4 linked regions of the Homo sapiens genome follow. The protein of the gene in region 1 purifies or fractionates together with the protein of each later gene. This does not show direct contact. Each region holds a gene or a part of one and is shown on either strand. Other genes may lie near its edges.

Evidence for each region.
Region 2: the proteins of DEFB135 (region 1) and SP3 purify together in Homo sapiens (affinity purification with mass spectrometry; one large-scale study listed by BioGRID and IntAct). This does not show direct contact.
Region 3: the proteins of DEFB135 (region 1) and TMEM67 purify together in Homo sapiens (affinity purification with mass spectrometry; one large-scale study listed by BioGRID and IntAct). This does not show direct contact.
Region 4: the proteins of DEFB135 (region 1) and LRP1B purify together in Homo sapiens (affinity purification with mass spectrometry; one large-scale study listed by BioGRID and IntAct). This does not show direct contact.

What each region holds. Positions count from the first base shown.
Region 1 is NC_000008.11:11,979,746-11,986,144, forward strand, and holds DEFB135 (beta-defensin 135 precursor), read left to right. Parts: upstream 1-2,510; 5' UTR 2,511-2,575; coding exon 2,576-2,639; intron 2,640-4,675; coding exon 4,676-4,845; downstream 4,846-6,399. UniProt on the Homo sapiens protein: Has antibacterial activity.
Region 2 is NC_000002.12:173,957,749-173,962,373, forward strand, and holds part of SP3 (transcription factor Sp3), read right to left. Parts: intron 1-4,625. UniProt on the Homo sapiens protein: Transcriptional factor that can act as an activator or repressor depending on isoform and/or post-translational modifications. Binds to GT and GC boxes promoter elements. Competes with SP1 for the GC-box promoters.
Region 3 is NC_000008.11:93,782,394-93,787,018, forward strand, and holds part of TMEM67 (meckelin isoform 1 precursor), read left to right. Parts: intron 1-1; coding exon 2-67; intron 68-2,828; coding exon 2,829-2,985; intron 2,986-3,829; coding exon 3,830-3,953; intron 3,954-4,625. UniProt on the Homo sapiens protein: Required for ciliary structure and function. Part of the tectonic-like complex which is required for tissue-specific ciliogenesis and may regulate ciliary membrane composition.
Region 4 is NC_000002.12:142,123,392-142,128,016, reverse strand, and holds part of LRP1B (low-density lipoprotein receptor-related protein 1B precursor), read left to right. Parts: intron 1-4,625. UniProt on the Homo sapiens protein: Potential cell surface proteins that bind and internalize ligands in the process of receptor-mediated endocytosis.

The DNA of each region.
Region 1 (6,399 bases):
AGCAAATACTTGGAGAGGATGCTGATATGGTTTGGCTATGTCCCTACCTAAAACTCACCTTGAATTGTAATAGTCCTGACCTGTGAAGAGTGGGGCCAGGGGGAAGCCATCCTGAAGGATTTTCCACAGGGCAAATGCATAAATCAATTTCAGTTTTATAAAAGGTCATTTTGGTTACCAAGTGGAGAATAAATGGTAAATATCTAAAAATGATATGGGAGCCATTTAAGAGGCCATTTACTGAGTTTGGTGACAGAGGTGATGGCATGGACGCAGTGGCAGCAGTGGAGATGGAAATGGGCGAGTGTGAAACGCATGCTGAAGGCAGAACTGGGAACGTTTGACGAGCAATTCAATGTGGACAGGGTGAGGGAAAGGCGGTGTCAGGATCATCTCAGGTATCGTTCAGGAGATTGTGAAGTGGGGCTTACTTGTCCTCTGGTGTGTGGAGCCTGGGTCAATGAACAGCTTCCAGTCACCAAGGCTGCCAGGAAGCAGTGTCCTTAGAGAAGGACCTAGCATTTTGCCAAGACACAGAGATGGAAGAGTGTTCTTGGGGAAGACATAAAGTAGAAGGTATGTTTATAGTAGAACTGTGGTTCTGGACGGCACAGTGGGAAGGGTTGAGATGGAGACAGAGGGAGTTTCTTGGAGAACAGAAGATCAGGACCATGGCAGCTGAGAGAGTGCAAATCAGGCTGTGCCTAATGCTGCAGGTTGGAAAGTGGGTCTCAGGAGAGTCCCTTAATGCATTTGTGCTTGCTTAATCTTTTCTCTTTGTGCTCCTCAAAACTCAGGTCCTCTATTCTTTCTCTATTTACTGATTTTCTGCTCTGCAGTTCTTTATGAGTCTTTCACAGATGTGCAATCTCAACCACATCGCAAACATCCTGAAGTTGGAAAACAAGAGTCCATTGAAGTGGCATACATTTGATGCATTCTTGTGAATAAAACAGGGACAGAGAGAGGGAAGCATGTGTTCCTAGTCCTGGCTATTTCACTCTCTAGCTGGAGAAGCAACATGTCTAGTTTTATTTCTTTAAATAGAGAAAGGGGTCTCACTATGTTGCCCATGATGATCTTGAATGCCTGGCCTCAAGCGATCTTCTCATCTCGGCCTCCCAAAGTGCTGCGATTACAGGCACATGCCACCACACCTGGCCAATATCTATAGTTTTAAATGTCTTCTTCTGTTACATGAGTCTAATAGTTCCTTAAATATATGTTCTATATGTTCTATAAAGGACTGGCCTTAAGAGTTACTTCATTTGGCCTTGCGACAAGCCTTCCTGATAGGTGGGAATGATGGAGTACAACCTATTTTTTGTTGTTGTTGTTGTTTAAGACAGAGTCTCACTGTGTCACCCAGGCTGGAGTGCAGTGGTGCAATCATGGCTCACTGCAGCCTTGATCTCCTGGGTTCAGGTGATTCTCCCACCTCAGCCTCCTGAGTAGCTAGGAGTACAGGCGCTCACTATCATGCCTGGCTAATTTTTGCATTTTTTGTAGAGATGGGGTTTTGCCATGTTGCCCAGGCTGGTCTTGAGCTGCTGAGCTCAAGCAATCCACCTTCCTCAGCCTCCCAAAACGTTAGAATTATAGGCATGAGCAACTGCACCTGGCCAGGTGTACAACCTTCTTTCCAAGTGAGAAAACTGATGGTCAGTGAGGTAAAGTACGTGCTTTATTAAAAGCTTGTCAAGCTACTGCATGCAGAGTCCAGACCAGAAAGACTTTCTGATTCTGGGTTTTGTGTTCTTCATACAGTATCAGATAAAGTTGCTGAAAAACTTAAAACACTTCAAAAACTGTCAAACACTGTCGACTTTAGTCCCTCCAAGCAAGACTTTTGTCATAAATTCTTTGTATGCCCCCCCATTACCCGGCACACAGCATATGCTCAATGGGGAGCCATAGACTCAGTGTTTTTCCCTGGGTCATGTTGCGGGTGTTATGGGGACTTGCTTTTTCCATGCTGTTTTTGAGGAGCTCTTATTTTCCTAAAGACATTACAGCTATACCAGAACTGGGCAAGGCCATACTTTAGTACTTCTGTATATAGGAGTCAGGGAAGCCTGCTTATAAATCATGTTGCTACCATTTAGGATCTATGTGAGCTTGAGAAAGTCATTTCTTCTACCTGAGACTCTTTATTTTTGTTTTTAAAATGGAGAGAATCATGCCTACCTGGACTTCGTGTGTGTGTAAGGTTGAAAAAAAAAACAAACTCTTTGTCAACTATGTAAGGCAGCCTTATGGTTCTCTGCACACTATAGGCATTTTAGTGGATGTACAATGAAGATACACAGACACCTACACAGCACCCTACCAGGGCCTAGAATAGGGCTGCCTACACAGTGTTCATGCAGTTGCTAGCATGCATGTGGCACCCAGGAAGTGTGCTTTAATGAAGGGATGTCATGTTCAAACAGACATTTTGCTGATTGGATTGCTCAGTGGAGCAGGCAGATGTTCTTGTTCCAAAAGGTTCACTAGCCATGCAGCTCCCCGTCTCTTCAAAGCTGCGGAGAGAGTGACTCTCCGATGAGTCACAGCTGCTTCTTTGCTGATTGGTATGGCCACAAGGAGCGTCCTCTTGGCCCTCGTGGTCCTTAACTTACTCTTCTATGTTCCACCAGGTAAAATGGAGTCCCCACCTTGTAGAATTAGGAATAGTAAAGGGAAAAAAGGTGTGAGGTTCTACAAGAGTGAGAAAAAGGCAGGACTTGGACAAAGGAAGCTGCAACAGGGAGGAAAGTGAGCAGAGATGGACATGCTGGGCTGGTCCAGAGAATGGAGAAAAGATCCAAAGGACACAGAACAGGAGGTAGCTCTCTTCAGAAAAGAAACTGGTTATGGATTTTGGTTTGAGGAGCTGGTGAAGTTTGAGGGGAAGGCTGGACTGTTGGTACTGGCAGAAGTAGGGCAGAGCAAAAAGATGAGACTTTCAAAGAATAGCGAGGACTTGGGGATGAGAAGGAGACTGTTCTTTGAGGGCTCTTAGAACTTGCCTTCTACAGTCAGCCACCCATGTTATTTTTCACTCATTTAGAAGCCAAGGTAAATTTTATGCTGAGCAGAATCCACAGACACAGCTGGTTAAGATGTATTACACTAACTTATAGCATGATGAGGTCCTATGAAACATCAGTTTGAGAGGTCAGAATTTACATTCTGTGGACAGAAGCCAGCAACTTGGTGATAATGAGAAGAGTCTACTTCAGTCACTAAAGTGGAGGTTCTCAAAACTGTTTTGCTTGTGGTTTTCTGGGGTCAGCAGAGAGCCCCTACCCTTTGCCTCAAACCTTCATATATAAAGCGTATCACTCAAGGACCAAGTGTGAAGTGTTTAAAAGACAGATATGAGGCTGGGCGCGGTGGCTCACGCCTGCAATCTAAGCACTTTGGGAGGCTGAGTCGAGTGGATCACCTGAGGTCAGGAGTTCGAGATCAGTCTAGCCAACATGGTGAAAACCCGTCTCTACTAAAAATACAAAATTAGCCGGGCATGGTGGCGCATGCCTGTCCCAGCTACTCGGGAAGCTGAGAAAAGAGGATCACTTGAACCCAGGAGGCGGAGATTGCAGTGAGCTGAGATGGTGCCATTGCACTCCAGCCTGGGCAACAAGCGTGAAACTTCATCTCAAAAATAAAAATTAAAAAAAATAAATAAAACGAAGACAGATACGAATGAGGACCATGTTGAGATGATGGCTGATGTCCTGCATGGTGGGACCTCCGACACTTTGCAGTGTGTCTCTACTGGACTCCTTTGTCCCCAGAAAAGTGCCTGAGGTCTAGGGAGCACATGGTGGGCAAGTTTGCCTGCTAACGGCCCTTGACCATACCACATTGATTATTTTCACACCACAAAGGTTCAATCCATGGACTCATGGGGGCACCTGGGTGGAGAAACTGATAAGACTTAGCATGCAAGAGCAGGTGATACAGTAGGGGCAACTCAGGGCCACCCTTACCCTCTTAAACTGCCTTCCTATTACCCCTCCTCCACCCTCTGGTTTCCAGAGGCTCCCAGTTCTTAAGGTGTAGAAAAATTACTAGCAATAAATTTCCATATTTGTCTCAGGTATTTCAAACCATTTCACACTCATTCTCCCATGGGTGCAAAGTACCCATGGGAGAATGGGTACTTCTTAAGTACCTTGTGATTAAGCACTTGACAAAAAGTCATGCAGAATGTTTTTGGGGAATACAGGGGTAGAAGTGCAGGCTTCTAAAATTCCACTTCAGTGATCCTTCTTTCTTTATGCTGACACTTTGATAATCACAAACTGCCTCAGGTAGCTATTCCAGACCCTGCATGCCTCCTGGTATGGGACCTCTGCAGGCTCCTGGGATGACTTCGATGTCTGAATATTCTTTCTGAAGCCAATAGTCTCAAGCTGAATATGCTGGGTCCTGTTAACTCCACACAGTTGATCAGTAATTCATGTAACTAATTGTGGATTCATATAATGGCTTATAATAGGGCCCCTGGAAAACAAGGTAAGAGCAACTGAAAAGGGGCATCCAGCTATAAAATGTCTTGAGTATCTTTGATCGCGTCTAATTCATTATTAAAAAGTGAAAACTATGGTCTGAGGTCTAATTTTATCCATGACAACATGACACTTCAGGACACTAACTGTGCATTAACCTTTGTTTCTCTTGGCAGGTAGAAGTGGACCCAATGTCTACATACAAAAAATCTTTGCTTCATGTTGGCGACTGCAAGGTACTTGCCGGCCAAAATGTCTAAAAAACGAACAATATCGTATTTTGTGTGATACTATACATTTGTGCTGTGTAAACCCAAAATATTTACCTATACTGACTGGGAAATAGTTGTGAGTACCTGAAAGCTGTTGCTGATTTCCTCTGGGAACCCAGATCCCTCTCAGTTGCACCATTCGATTAAAACAATGGCTTTAGCCTATCAGTGTTCCTGTGTCTGCTGTATTTCTCTTTATTGTCTCTCTTACAGAAATACTCTAATTCCTTGTATTGAGTATTTTTCTTTTTATTAATTTGTCGCTTCTTAAAAGTCTCTTAAGAACTTTTTGAAGTATAACATACAATTAAAAAATGTACAAATCATGAGTAAACATCCTCATGAACTGCACAAATTTAACACACCTGTGTAACCAGCATCCTGCCCCCACAAAAGAATGTTACAACATCCCAGGCACTACCAGTCACTACTCCACACAAAATAATTCCTAGCCTGACTTTTAATAGGAAGGCGCTGACATCTATTTTTGAACTTTATATAAATGGAATTGTAGGTATTCCTTTGTGTCTGGCGTCTTCCCCACTACATTACTTTTGTGAAGTTTATTAATCTGTTTCATGTAATTGTAGTTTATCCTTCTCAATGGCATACTGTAATACATTGGGAAAGATATTACAATTTATTTGAATATTGTAAGTGAAGATGGTCTTATTTGTAGTTTCCAGTTTTCACTTTTATAAATAGGGTTGTGGTGCAGGGATTTCTGTGGGGGTTATATACCTAGGAGAGAAATTCCTAGGGCACAGGCTATGCATACATTCAGTTTTAGTAAATACATAGCATCTGATTGTTTTCCAAATTGGTTGTACCAATTTATACTCTCATCCACAATGTGTGAGCATTCTTGTTGCTTTACATTCTTGTCCACATCTAGTATTTTATGCCTTTAAAAAGATATTCTAGGGAGAATATAGTGATGACATATGGGGTTTGATTTGTGTTGCATGGATGACTAATGAAGCTGAGCACCTTTTCAGATGTTTATTGGCCATTTAGATATCCTTATTTGTGATATGACCCTTCAAGACGTTCGTCCATTTTTCTATTGGATTGTCTAACTTGGGAACCTACTAATGAACACTCGTGGTTTGATGTTGAAAACAATGAAGTGAAAGTCATATTGAAAATATTTAAGTTGAAATATTGAGTATGTTATAGTTTGCAATGGACAAAGACGTTTTGTGCTATTTAGGATGACCAGGCCATAAAAATGTTTCTATCCTTGAAAAATTAGGAATGCTTTTCCAAAATGGTGGATTAGAGGAACTGCTAGCATACCTCTTCCACTTGGAAGGACAAAATAGTGTGTACAGATTCACGTTGTGAACTATTTTTCGAGAAGCAACGCAATAACTGAACAGGAAAACCATAGGAATCTATTGATGTTTTGAAGGAAGCAGGAGACTGCAGCCTACACTGAGTCAGTCGAAGGGCTGCGAGTCCCCTGAGTGTGACAGAGTGAATTTGCCTCTGGGATACACATCCCCACTAGGGATCCTGAAAGTCCAGGACACAAGGTGGGGGTGCTGGCGGGGAAGCCCTAACCCGAACTAACGCAGGAACCGACTTGGGGATGGTTATGGACTATAAACTATTCCATACTTTTA
Region 2 (4,625 bases), on another chromosome or scaffold:
CAATGAAGGAGACTGAAAGAAAGGGAGGAGACTAAAGGCTGAGAAATTGTGGAACCCAATACAAATCTCTAGGCCTGAACTATAAAATAGCGATCTGTCTTAAATACACTTAAATTATATTTACTAAACAATTTTAAAATGAAGCATCAGACATTAAAGTCACATGTCACTCTGCAACTTCAATCTGGTATAGAAATTACAATGTTAAGTCACCTTTCCTAACATTACAGTGACAAATGTTTCATTTCGGTCTCTTGGCATTTTAAGTAAACTACAAATATTTAAATCTATATACTAAAATCTACACTAAAGTGTGTCTAAAATCTAACCTTTATCTTCTTAAGGTTATTGCTCACCTGGAGGATCCACTGAAATTTTTTCTGACCAGCATAAAATTTACAGGTATTGAACTTTTATCAAAGAATATAGTAACTCAGACACAAATTAATTTTATGATACTGGCATTTTGTCCCTTTTCCTTTCTTTAAAAAAAACAAAGTCAAATTTACAGCACCTAAAGTGTTTTTTTTTTTTTTTTACAAAATAGTAATAAAGGCAGATATTCAACCATCACTGAACAGCTTTCTAGTCAAGAAATTCCTTGAAAATAAATACAGCTAACGCAAATGACAAATCTGAGTAAATATTGCCCAAGTCATCCCCTCTCCAGAAGCTAGATAAAAATAAACTGTAGTGCCATTTTTCTCAGCAATTCAGGCCATTAATTGAAGGAAAATCTCTAAACCTAGAGCAAAGTGATGTATTCCGAACTTTTCTGAATAAGCCTGAAATGAAAAGCATTATTAAAATACCTGTGAAGCACAACGATGGGGGAAAAAAAAAAAAAGCAACAGGTAATTTAAGGAAAAGAATCAAGCAAGAAAAGGAACTTTTTTAATTTAATAAATTTGCAGTTTTAAAAAAATTTGCTGAATACCCTATTTTCTAAATGGAATGGAAAAAACACATTGAATCAGAAAACTACTAGATGATTTATGCCAAAACTACACTCGACAATATATTACACAAGAAAAAAAAAAAAGCTCAGAACTGAGTTCTAGTTCTGGCTACACTGTGGAATTGTGTGAGTTACAGCAACTCAATTTTCTCATGTCAACAACCGGAAAAACATTACCTTGCAGGGGCATAAGAATCAGAAGAAAAATATTAAATTTTATAAACTATTGAGCACTGTGCAATCCCAAGATCATTGTGAGTGCTAAGATTATGAGAATAGATTTGAAAAACATCCATTAAAATTAGCCTAGCACAATTCCTGGCACTCAGTAAGATCAATATATATTTACTGAATGAAAAGTTATTTTACTTTAAAATCATTGCAAACACAATGACAGAATGGATCAAAACAAATTTTGAGGTATTAAGAGCCTTCTATGAAAAAGTCTAAACCAATTTTAAGCCTATTTATTTCCACAATTCCACAATGAATCAGCTCCAAATATTTCAAAACTACAAAGCCTTGCAAAGCACAATCAAATTTCTTTGTAAAAGAAATTTCATCAGCAATATACCACTAAAAGAGATAAAGTACACTAAATACCAAATGGGAGAGGAATAAATTAGAAAATCATCTGAGACCAAAAAAAAAAAAAAGTTTGAAAAATGTTTGATGTTAGACTACTGGAAACACTACAGAAACAAAAGAATAAAAGGAGATTTAAAAACGTACAACCGTGACAGGGCCGGTGGCTCACGCCTGTAATCCTAGCACTGTGGGAGGCTGAGGCGGGCAGATCACTTGAGGTCAGGAGTTTGAGACCCGTCTGACCAACATGATGAAACCCCGCCTCTACTAAAAAGACAAAAATTAGCCGGGCATGGTGTACATCTGTAGTCCCAGCTACTCTGGGACTCTGGGGCTGTAGTCCCAGCTACTCTGGGGGCTGAGGCGGAAGAATGGCTTGGGCCTGGAAGGCGGAGATTGCAGTGAGCCGAGATTCCGCCACCGCACTCCAGCCTGAGTGACAGGGCGAGACTCAGTCTCAAAAAAATAAAAATAAAAATAAAAAAAATTAAAACAGGCAACCAAGACGAGAACTAGTATTTGGTTTAGAAGCAAGATAATCCTCTACATAACCTATGTCTACGTAAGTTTACAAACCAAATTAAAAATCCACCAGTGTTTCTCTCAGTACCTTTCTTACCGGACAATTAACAAACAAAACCTAGGCAGGTGGATCCTTTGAGTCTAGGAGTTCAAGACCAGCCTAGGCAACATGGCGAAGCCCCATCTCTACAAAAAATACAAAAATTAGCCAGGCGTGGTGGCACGTGCCTGTAGTCTCAGCTACTAGGGAGGCTGAGGTGGGAGGATCAACTGAGCCCCAGTGGTTGAGGCTGCAGTGAGTTGTAATCACACACCTCCATTCCAGCCTGGGAGACAAAGCGAGCCTTTCTCAAAAAACAAACAAAACACCATCTAACATGAATGTTGGCATTAGTACAGTAAAAAGTTGTAACTAAGGCACTCTAAGTCTCTCTACATACAAATATACCGGTGGAAACGGAAAAAGAAAAAATTCACACCACCTATTGCATAGCATTTGGAAATGATTATTAACTTAGTTCCCACGAATGCCTTTACGAAAGCCAGAAATAGGAAAGGAAGGAGTATAACTGGAAACAAGAACAGGTGTGAAGCTGAGGTGGAAACAAATTAAGAACTTAGGCAAATATTCAAGTTTCTTAAAATCTTCAAAGAGCACTAAAAGAACTCAGACTTCAAATAGAATTACCCTACCCAATGAATTAGTTACAATGACAGCACAGGTCTTATTTTAAATAATGGCAAAATAACTTTTTTGAAGTAAGCTATTACTTATTTTTTAGCTCAACATTTATGTGCCAAATTAAGGAACACTAAATTTACAACCTAAACCAAAGATCAAGCAATCACTTTCATAATAGTCACTTATTTTAGGCCAGGCGCAGTGGCTTACGCCTGTAATCCCAGCACTTTGGGAGGCCAAGGTGGGCAGATCATGAGGTCAGGAGATCGAGACCATCCTGGCTAACACGGTGAAACCCTGTCTCCACTAAAAATACAAAAAAAAAAAATTAGCCGGGCATGGTGGCACACGCCTGTCGTCCCAGTTACTCGGGAGGCTGAGGCAGGAGAATGCTGTGAACCCAGGAAGCAGAGCCTGCAGTGAGCCGAGATCGCGCCACTGCACTCCAGTCTGGGCGACAGAGTGAGACTCTGTCTCAAAAAAATAAAAATAAAAATAAAAGTCACTTATTTTATTCCACTAAAGTAAAAATGAAGTAAATTAATAATCCACAAGTTCACATAAATGCAAACTGGTCAAAGTTAATACTTGCACAAAGGTCTACTTTTTTCTATTTCCTGGTTTACTACTAAAATTAGCCACAACTTAAGTACAAAGGAGCGTTGCTATAAAACCATCTTTCAGAGTCCATGTTGTACGACATTATATACGAGACTGCTTTATGACTAGACTTCTTCAGCAATGTACTGTGGGTAACCAAACACCCTTGGCTAGGATCCTCTTTTATGACAAATTCCAAATTCAAAATCCAAATATTAAAAGCAATCTTCAGCACAGTTGATTGGCTTTTCAAGGCCCTTTTAATCTCAAAATACCAAGCTAAACTGGCATAAAGTTCATCTGTATGTGTATATTTCCACTTGTTTAAACACAACAATATATATGCAATGTGGAATCCTGGACTGGATCCCAGAAGAGAAAATGGACATTAGTGGAAAAGCTGGTGAAACGCAAACAAAGTCTGGTTAGTAATGTCATACCAATGTTCATGTCTTAATTTGGACAAATGTATCATCATTATCCTAACATTAGGGGAAGCTGGATGAAGGGTATGAGATTACTCAGTTCTGTATTTCCAACTTTTCTATAAATTTAAAATTATTCCAAAATACAATTATTTAAAAACACAGCTATAACCTCTCATAATTCCCAGTCATTTGAGTAATAAAAGATTATCTAAGCCCATGAACTCATGTGAATTTCCTTTTCTAAGATGTGCTGAAAAGATGTCTTAAGTTCATATTTGCACTGGAAAAATAAATTTTTAGCAAATTTTCTATTTGCTAAGGCAAATACACACAAGCCAGTCTTACCAATTTTACTCAAAGTGAAAAATCTTGGGTGCAGGTACCAGACATCATAAATATATGGTTTGGGTTTTTTTTTTTTTTTTTTTTTTTTTAGGCAAAACTATTTTCATTTTACTATGATTGGCAAATTATGATGTATTTGATTGATAAATCTCAGATTTATCAGATTGATTCTAGTTCGTCTTCATGTGGCAGAATATGTGTTGTCAGGAGTGATTTGGTAATTCAGAAAAGCAGCTGAAGAAGCATGGAAACTTCCCTACAAGTATATGGCCACAGCTGGCTAAGGTTGGAGACAGTATTCTATCCTTGGGCCTCAGACTCACATATGTATGTACATACACATATTATTCACCCATATTTCCTTCCTTCTCCCCTCCCCCATCTGTAAACTGATATCTAAACTTTACAAATTACAGTTACAAGAAAAGTTTTGTTCCATTTGAAATACAAAAAAGATCAGGAGAAGCAATCTGCTTTTTAATTTTACTTATGCAGTAGTTTT
Region 3 (4,625 bases), about 82 Mb from region 1:
GCTTTGTCCAGACACAGAGACAAGGCTAAATGCTGCTTATTCATTTGGAACAACCTACCAACAAAATGTAAGTTTGAACGATATTAGTCTATATTTTAGCTTTATTTTTCAAAATATCATGTCAGCAGTAATTGGAATAATACTTAAATTTTTGAGATTGGAAATTTTTTATTCTTGGTTTTTTTTTTTTTTTTTTTGAGATGGAGTTTTGCTCTTGTTGCCCAGGCTGGAGTGCAGTGGTGCAATCTCAGTTCACCACAACCTCCGCCTCCCAGGTTCAAGTGATTCTCCTGCCTCAGCCTCCCGAGTAGCTGGAATTACAGACATGTGCCACCACGCCCAGCTAATTTTTTGTATTTTTAGTAAAGACAGGGTTTCTCCATGTTGATCAGGCTGATCTTGAACTCCCCACCTCAGATGATCTGCCCTCCTCAGCCTCCCGAAGTGCTGAGATTACAGGCATGAGCCACCGTGCCTGGCCGGAAATGTTTTTAATAGTGAAGAATAATTTCACTATTTAATATAATTTTTTATTACCTGGGTACATAAAAGCTTAATTTAAGTGGCATAAACAGAGCACCTTGTTATCTATAGAGTTTTTTGTTTTTTGAGACAGAGTCTCGCTCTGTTGCCCAGGCTGGAGTGCAGTGGTGCAATCTCAGCTCACTGCAATCTCTTGCCTCCTGGGTTCAAGCAATTCTCGTGCCTCAACCACCTGAGTAGCTGGGACAACAGGCATGTACCACCACACCCAGCTAATTCTTGTGTTTTGCATAGAGATGGGGTTTTGCTGTGTTGACCACGCTTGTCTCAAACTCCTGACCTCAACTGATCCACCAGCCTTGGCCTCCCAAAGTGCTGGGATTACAGGTGTGAGCCACCTCGTCCGGCCTAGAGTCTTAAACATCATATAATATTACATCTTCATAATAAATTGTTTATCTGCTTCTAGGCTTATAGGTCTTAAAAAGTAATGCTTACTTCTGAGCATTTTGAAATAAAGTAAAAATACTACTTTTTTTAAATGACTAATAAAAAGTTACTCCCTTCTTCTACCCGCTCATAACAAATAAAAATAATTCCTTCATCTTCTTCCATTCTTTTCTTTCTCCTTCCTTCTCTGACTTTCCTTACTTTGATACCTATTTTGAAATTACATTATTTTACTAAGGAATATTATGAGCCATTCAATACTTGAAAAACATGCATGTATTAGTCCGTTCTCACGCTGCTAATAAAAACACATCCGAGACTGGGTAATTTACAAAGGAAATAGGTTTAATTGACTCACAGTTCACTATGGCTGAGGAGGCCTCAGGAAACTTACAATCATGGTGGAAGGGAAGCAAACATGTCCTTTTTCACGTGGTGACAGGAAGAGAAGTACTGAGCAAAAGGGGGAGAAGCCCCTCATAAAACCATCAATCTCATGAGAACTCACTCACTATCATGAGAACAGCATGAGGGTAACTGCCCCTATGATTCAATTACCTCCCTCCGGGTCCTTCCCATGACACATGGGGATTATGGGAACTACAGTTCAAGATGAGATTTGGGTGGGGACACAGCCAAACCATATCAATTCATTAGTCTGTAAAAGTACATCTTGATAAAGTTCCACGCACAACCATAGAACAAAACCATAACAAAAAATACCATTATGGAAAGTAGATTGGAAGAATCTACTAACAGTGGTTACCTCTGGATAGTGGGGTTAGAAATTATTTTTTTCTTTTTTATAATTTCCAAATTTTCTACCATGAACATGAATTTACTTCTTTTGTCAGAAATGATTTACACGTTGTTGTTGCTGTTGTTGTTAAAATAAATGTTATTGTGCTTCTAACATAGGCCAGAAAGATCAACACTTATGTAATGCCTATCTGTGTGCTCAGCATTTTATCGTTATTATCCCATTTGATTCATAAAATAACTATATGAGATACATAGTATCTGTGCTTCACAGATGAGGAAATTATGCCGTGTAATTAGGTAATTTACTCAAAGACTTGTGTCACATAAACTGTGGAGCCAATGTTCTATCATCAGGTTTAAAAAGCATTTTTATTTCTTTGAACCTGGCTAACTCTCAAGTCCTTCATAGACTAGTGGGCAAAACAGTTATATAGACAAAGAATTGCAAAGAATGTGATAAGTGTCATTCTATAGGTATGTACAAGGTACTGATTCCTGGGGAAGTATAGAAAGGCTTCACAAAGTAAGTGATACTTGGATTTGTATAATGAATATGAGTTTTCCAGAAGAACACAGTGGGGAAGGAAATATCAGACAGAAATCACATTTGTAATGACAGAGAGACATACAGTAGTATGGCATATTTAGAAACTACAAGTAGATTAGTATGAATGGACCACCATAGACTGATAGGGAGTAATGAGAGATAAGCCTGGCTTGGTTAATGGAAGCCAGATCATATACATCATTGTACAGCAGGAGAAAAAATTGGGAATTTATCCCGTAGGACAGTAGTTTTAAACCTTTTCACTGATGTACCCTTAATATTGAGAATGAAGGTATACCTCCTTCATCTGAGTTGAAGCTCAAGAAGTTCTCAAAATTCTCAAAGCAGTACTTTACTGTTAGTGGTTTTGGTCCTTATAAAATAATCATAGTATTCATGTTTTGGAAGACAAATGAAAATGCATATAAACAAGGTAGTATAAAGACATTTTGCAAAACTAGAAAAACACTCTGAAGATAATAAATATGCTTGCTAATTTTCAATTGTGATCTTTTATTTTATTTTTTACTTTTTAGTACTTTAAGTTGCTGTTTTATGTGCTTTTATTTTTAATTTTACTTTTCAGTGTGAGATTCCTATCTCTAAGATCTTAATTGACTTTCCCACTCCTATATTTTATGATGTGTACCTTGAATATACTGATGAAAATCAACATCAATATATTTTGGCTGTGCCTGTGTTAAACCTAAATCTTCAACATAATAAGATATTTGTGAACCAAGGTAAGACATCCATACATACCACTCTTTTCCCTGAGCAGAAATCAACAAATAAGTTAACCTACATGATAATTTAATAAACCACTGATTATAAGAAAGGTCATGAATTCTCTCTTATGTGGTTCTATACAGTGTGCCAAAAAATGAAACAATAAATTGCTGGTGGACTTAGAAACTGTTGCTAATTTTATTGCCAGACATATTGTTAAGAAATTATACTGTTGCTGAGGGTATATCCTGAGAAACATTAGTAGAACCGTAAATTGGGGCTTTTTCGTCAAGCTGTCCCGAATATGCTTTTTTGGACAAATTAGTTTCTTTTGTTGTTATTCATGTTATAAAATTCTGCTTTTTCAGGTAATTTGCAGGGGAAAGCCTTCCAAATTTATGAAAAGTTCAATCAGAAGACATTCAAGTCCAAGGCACGGTGGCTCACGCCTATAATCGCAGCACTTTGGGAGGCCAAGACGAGAGAATTGCTTGAGCCTAGAAATTGAAGACCAACCTAGGCAACATAATTAGAACTGGTTGCTACAAAAAAAAATTTAGCTTGGTGTGATGGTGCACCCTTGTAGTCCCAGCTACTCTGGAGGCTGAGGTGGGAGGATCACTTGAGCCCAGGAGGTTGAGAATGCATGCAGTGAGCCATGATCATGCTATTGCACTATAGCCTGGTCAACAGAGTGAGACCCTGTCTAAAAAAAACAAAAGAAGACATTCACATGAGTTAGAGAACGCCATTGTCAGGTGTTTCTTATACTAGTAGCTTTTTGCAGCCATCTTATCTAAAACAATAATTTCATGTTTTAAATTTGTGCAGTAAACTTTTTTCTTTTTATAATAAAAGACAGCAACTCTGGAAAGTGGCTTCTAACTCGGCGCATTTTCTTAGTGGATGCAGTAAGTGGACGAGAAAATGACTTAGGAACTCAGCCAAGAGTAATTCGAGTTGCTACTCAAATATCACTGAGGTAAACAAATGTCTAATGATATTATTTATGGGAAAATATCATAATGGAAGTGTTTGCCAGTCATTAGTAGATGAAAACAATAAGGACAACTGAATTGGAACAGTTGGTCGGGTTATTTTAGGTGTATGTGTAGATTGGCATAGACCAGTAAAAGTGAATAGCCAAGGGGGAAAACTATAACAGAAGAGTGTGAGGAGTTAGGTCAAAATGCACATTATAGGTCCCACTCTAGACCTGCTGAATTAGAATGGGTTGCGAATAGCTAAGTAAATACCAGTGAGCTGAAATTGGTGTTTCAGGAAGAGCTTGCCAGATGATTGTTAATGTTTAGGACTCCCCTGTCCTCATTTCTTTCAGTGGCTTTTGTTCTAGGTTTACCCAGATTAATTTTCAACACCTCCCTCTTCCTAGGATAATCTCATTATGATCCTACGTTAGGATAGTACCTCGCCACTTAAATTTCTCTTTCTTTTCCAGTGTGAGATCTCTAAAATCTTAGTGACTTTCCCACTATAATATTTTATGATGTGTACCTTGAATACACTGATGAAAATCAACACCATCATCTCACAGTAGTTTGGTACTTTGAAGTACTTCAATATACTTATTTTTCAGTTATTTCATTTTGATTCTCATAATCTTATAAACAGTGCAGAAACTTTGTTATTTATC
Region 4 (4,625 bases), on another chromosome or scaffold:
AGGAAACATCTTTGTAACTCTTAACAGCCAAAATTGGAAGATAAATCAGATTCACTTAGAATCAACTAATTTGTCATATAACAATGTCATATCATATCAAAGTATTGCTTGATAAGGATTAAAACTTAAAAGGAAGTATATCTTAAAGTGTCAAATTTTCTGAAAAGGGATTGAGAGGCCTAATGCTAGTCTGTGTTAAATTCTCGAGTATGATACAATGTGGAGACACATTTCCAAATAATTAAAGTTCATGCTGTTATAGTCATTTTAATGTATCTGTATAGAAAACCATCAAACAATGGCAATTAAATGTATATCAAAATTTTAATCTCCCCTCAAAGAAGAATGAACTGCGATTTATGTCTCTTCATATGCCACAAATAACATTAAAGTTTTGTTTTGAAGAGGTTGCTAATCTTTGAATTTGTTCTCTTTCTCTCTTCTCAAGCTCAAATTTAAACTGAGTGAGAGAGAAAAGAGAAAATGGAAAAGGTAAAGAAAGAATTTAAATGTGCTAAAACAATAAGAAAGAATGTGAATTGCAGAAAACAGAATTCAGGAGGAAAAATGGAGTTAAGAGAAAGCTGAAGATAAATTTAGGAAAAAGATGAATGGATGGATGGATGGATGGATGGATGGATGGATGGATTCTGCCATACATCAGAATCTGAATCAGTATTTCTTGAATAGGTTAAAATATCTTTAGACAAAATAATTTCTTAAAATGTTTTTATCTCATTATTAAAAACATTATATGAAAATATTTACAGTATAAAAATAATTTAAGGAAAGTGCCACCAGTGTGAATCTGAATATAATTAGACCTCTAAGAATGGAGAGAGACATGAGAATATTGCAGAAAAATTAAATATTAACTGTGCTAGAATTACAAATATGGAAGTGATTTTTTAAAAATGTAAGTGAAGGTAAAGGAAATTTTCTTAGAAAGGGTGCTAGATGAGTGATATGGTTAATGTATTCTTAGGACTTAGATGACACTTTCTAAATGCTGCTTGTTTTTCAAGGTGGAGGTATGCAGAAATACTTAGTTTGCAAATCTATTGGATCCAGGACATTAGTTTCTTGCCAGTTACCTTGTCAATTTCTTTTCTCAGCCCAGGGGATACCATAAAAATCAGCTCCATTTAAAGTCACCTGAACTGAACAGGACTTGGTCTTCTACAAGGATTATGATGTTGAGGGAACTTTATGTCTTTTCTCCATTCTATATATGGATCCAGTTTTTTATGTTTCTGCCATTAATTTTTGTATCTTAATGTGAAATGTGCAACTCTCCCTCCCTTTCCTTCAGCATTTTCCTGGTTATAGGAATTCTGTGTAGTAAAAAGTACCAATCAAACATACTGATAGATTTCTCTATCTTCTGTGGCTGTCTGTCAAAACAATTCTTGTACAAAGGAAACACTTGTCTTCATTCTAGATAGATGCATTCAAAGAAAGTAGAATTAATCCTAAAAGTTAAACATGCCTGTGCCAACATGATATCATTCGTCAAACTAAGTTAGTAGTAAGTGGAACCCAACTATACAATTGCCCCCAACCCCGTTTTTAATCTCTCTCTGTGTGTGTTTATGTGTGTCTGTATATCTGCTTTAAAATGGCTTTCCTTGGCACAAACGCCATTAAAAATACCACTCTGGCTTGAAAATTGGTGATGGTTTTTATGAATGAAACTTTTGCTTTTGAAAACTCCAGATAAACATGTCTATTTATCTGGACAAAAAAAAAAGTGAAATGAAAAAAATTTTAAGTTATTTTTTGACTCATAGCATATAATATTCTAATACATTTCGATATAACAAGTATTTTGTTTTAACAGAATCTGACTGTGTGGCAGAAACACGTGTCAAAATTATCTGCTTTTGAAATGAATATAATTATGGTATACCCAATGCTTATAATTTGAAGCAATACATTTAGTAGCAGAATGCTAAAGAAAATAAAGCCAAAGACTGAGTTCCATTATGAATTAATCAGAATATATGCTCAGCCAAACTCCTATGAGAAAATATCTATGTCTACCTTAGATAGTTTTAAAACTTTTCTTAAATTTCTTCAAGAAACCTGGCTTCCCCCATATAATCCAAGAATAATGACCAAAACTATCTTGATGCATAGAAAGGTCAAATAAGAAGGTTTTTCTTTTGGTTTTGGCAGAGGAGGGGGGAGAGTAGGGAAAATTAGCTAATCAAACAGAAAAATGTCAAGGGATGCTTTTTATTTTCTTCTGTGGAGTTGCTATACATTTTCACATGGATAGCTATTCCCAAATTTAACCTGTGTCACAAACCATTGTCTAGAGACATAGAAATGAAATTGCAACAGAGCAATCACAAATTGTATAGTCTATAGGCCTTGGGAACATTCTCCAGTTATTTTATTTTGGATGGAGATTTTTAAAACTTATTAGTTTTTTGGGATAAAATATTATTTAAACAGTAAATAAGACAAAAAATGAAAATATCTCTAAAAATAATTTGAGTTTTTAAAAGTTGGTTTTTGGACTAATTTCCATATGTGAGTTCCACTGGCACAGAATGAGTGTCTTTACCTCACTCACTCAATTTTGAAAAGTATTATACTTGCAATAGTATTGAATCTCTGTTCTGGCTCTTCAGTCCTCTCTCATTTGAATAACATGTCAATCTCACCAAGTACATATGAACCCTCTATTTTAGAGAAAGGAGAATGAAGGATTCAGGAGATTCTGCCATTCAGCACAACAAGTAAGCTTACATCTTCCAAATGTATATGCTGTTTTTTTTCTGTTTGTCTTCTATAATCTGCCCTCACAATTTTAAATCTATATTTTCCTCTTCATAAATGATCAGATGGCCTCCCTTTTTCCCCTGGCATAATTACAAGGCCAAGTTAGAAAGTATGTATTATGTATTGCTCTGTTCTAAATTGAGTGATATTAAAATGTAGAGTCAGTCTCACTCTCTCCATCTCTCTTTCTCTCCATCCTTTCTATTTAGGCTATCTCTATACAAGCCCACATATTTTGACTGAGCTCCCTGACTAAACCAATTGATGAAACTGACTAGTAACTAAATGGAAATCAAAACTATTAAATAATAGCCATACATCCTGTAAAAAAAAAAAGTAAGACTGGTCTTGCAGGAAAAGCCTAAATTGAGATTCTATGAAGAAACAATAACAACAACATATTTCCCTGAAAGAATTATGCAACATATTTCTAGTTTGCAGAGCAAATCATATGTGCTTTTGCTGTTGTGTCTCTCATACTAGGCAAATGAAATATTTTTGGTAGTAACTACATATTTATATAATGGGGTATTATACAAGTTTAAAACACTATTAGAAAATAAATAAGTATTCTGAATTCATTTGTACTCAAAGAGAATTTACTATATTGAAAGTGGAAATTTATTATTTTTCTTTTTGTCTTTACTTTTTAACTGAATTTGTATTTCTCCATTTTGTGAAACATTAAAAAAAACTTAAATATATTCCAAAATGTGATTTCAAAGATTTTCTCTCAATAAAGAATATATATAGTGGAAATCATTCATAAATTGGACAACAGGATTAAATGCTCTTTTAAATATGACTATAATAATTTTCATATGCAGTCACATTAACTTAGTTTTAGTCTACAATTAGGTACCCAATTATGATTTTTAAAAATGCAATGGCATGAATAAATAAATGAGTATACCCATTTGTTGATCTTATTCCCTATTACTTCAAATTTGTAAGTATCCTTAGTGGAAAAGAGTAATGTTCATTTTGGAAATAATCATGTCTCAACATGATTGGGGTCTACTCAAGGGGGAGGGTGGGAGGAAGAAGAGGAGCAGAAAGGATAACTATTGGGCACTGGGCTTAACACCTGGGTGGTAAGATAATATGATCAACAAACCCTTGTTACACATGTTTACCTATGTAACAAACCTTCACATGTACCCCCAAATCTAAAATTAAAATTAAAAAAAACATGTTTTTCTGTTGTTCAATAACTCTACTCATATTTGTTTAATAATGATGTATTGTCTACATTTGGGATTTCTTCTTAAATATTGCAGAATAGTTGTAAATACGTAACGCTTTTCAAAGGTGTCTTTACCTTTAGAAAAGAAAGAAAATTAATTTTGATTAATACATTTGTACCACAGATCCATTTGTTTAATCTTATTTTTCTCAAATATAAGCTCGTATATAAAAGTTTCTCAGATATAAGCTTGTGTATTTAAAAGTTTCCATTTAAACATGAATAATATTATAACTATATCCTTTACAGAAGTTGAGAAAGTACCTTTTCATATACAATTTCTTCCAACTTTGTTAAGAGAAAAATAACCAAAAAAAAAAAAAAACTTCTTGAAGAAGATAGATCATGTTGCCTTGCTAAGATACCGACATTACATTTCATCTCACAATACATTCTTATTAACAGTCAGACATCTCTTCCTGAGTTGCATACACCTCATTGTCCTGACTGGCTTAGCCTTCAGACCAAAGACAGGTATTGTTGAAACATGACCTCATTTTAGTCAAAAGAATATGTTTCTTCTTTAGGTAAGATCAAGGTACCACCTATCGTCTCTTGTTTTATTCTTGCAATCAATAGGACATCCCTT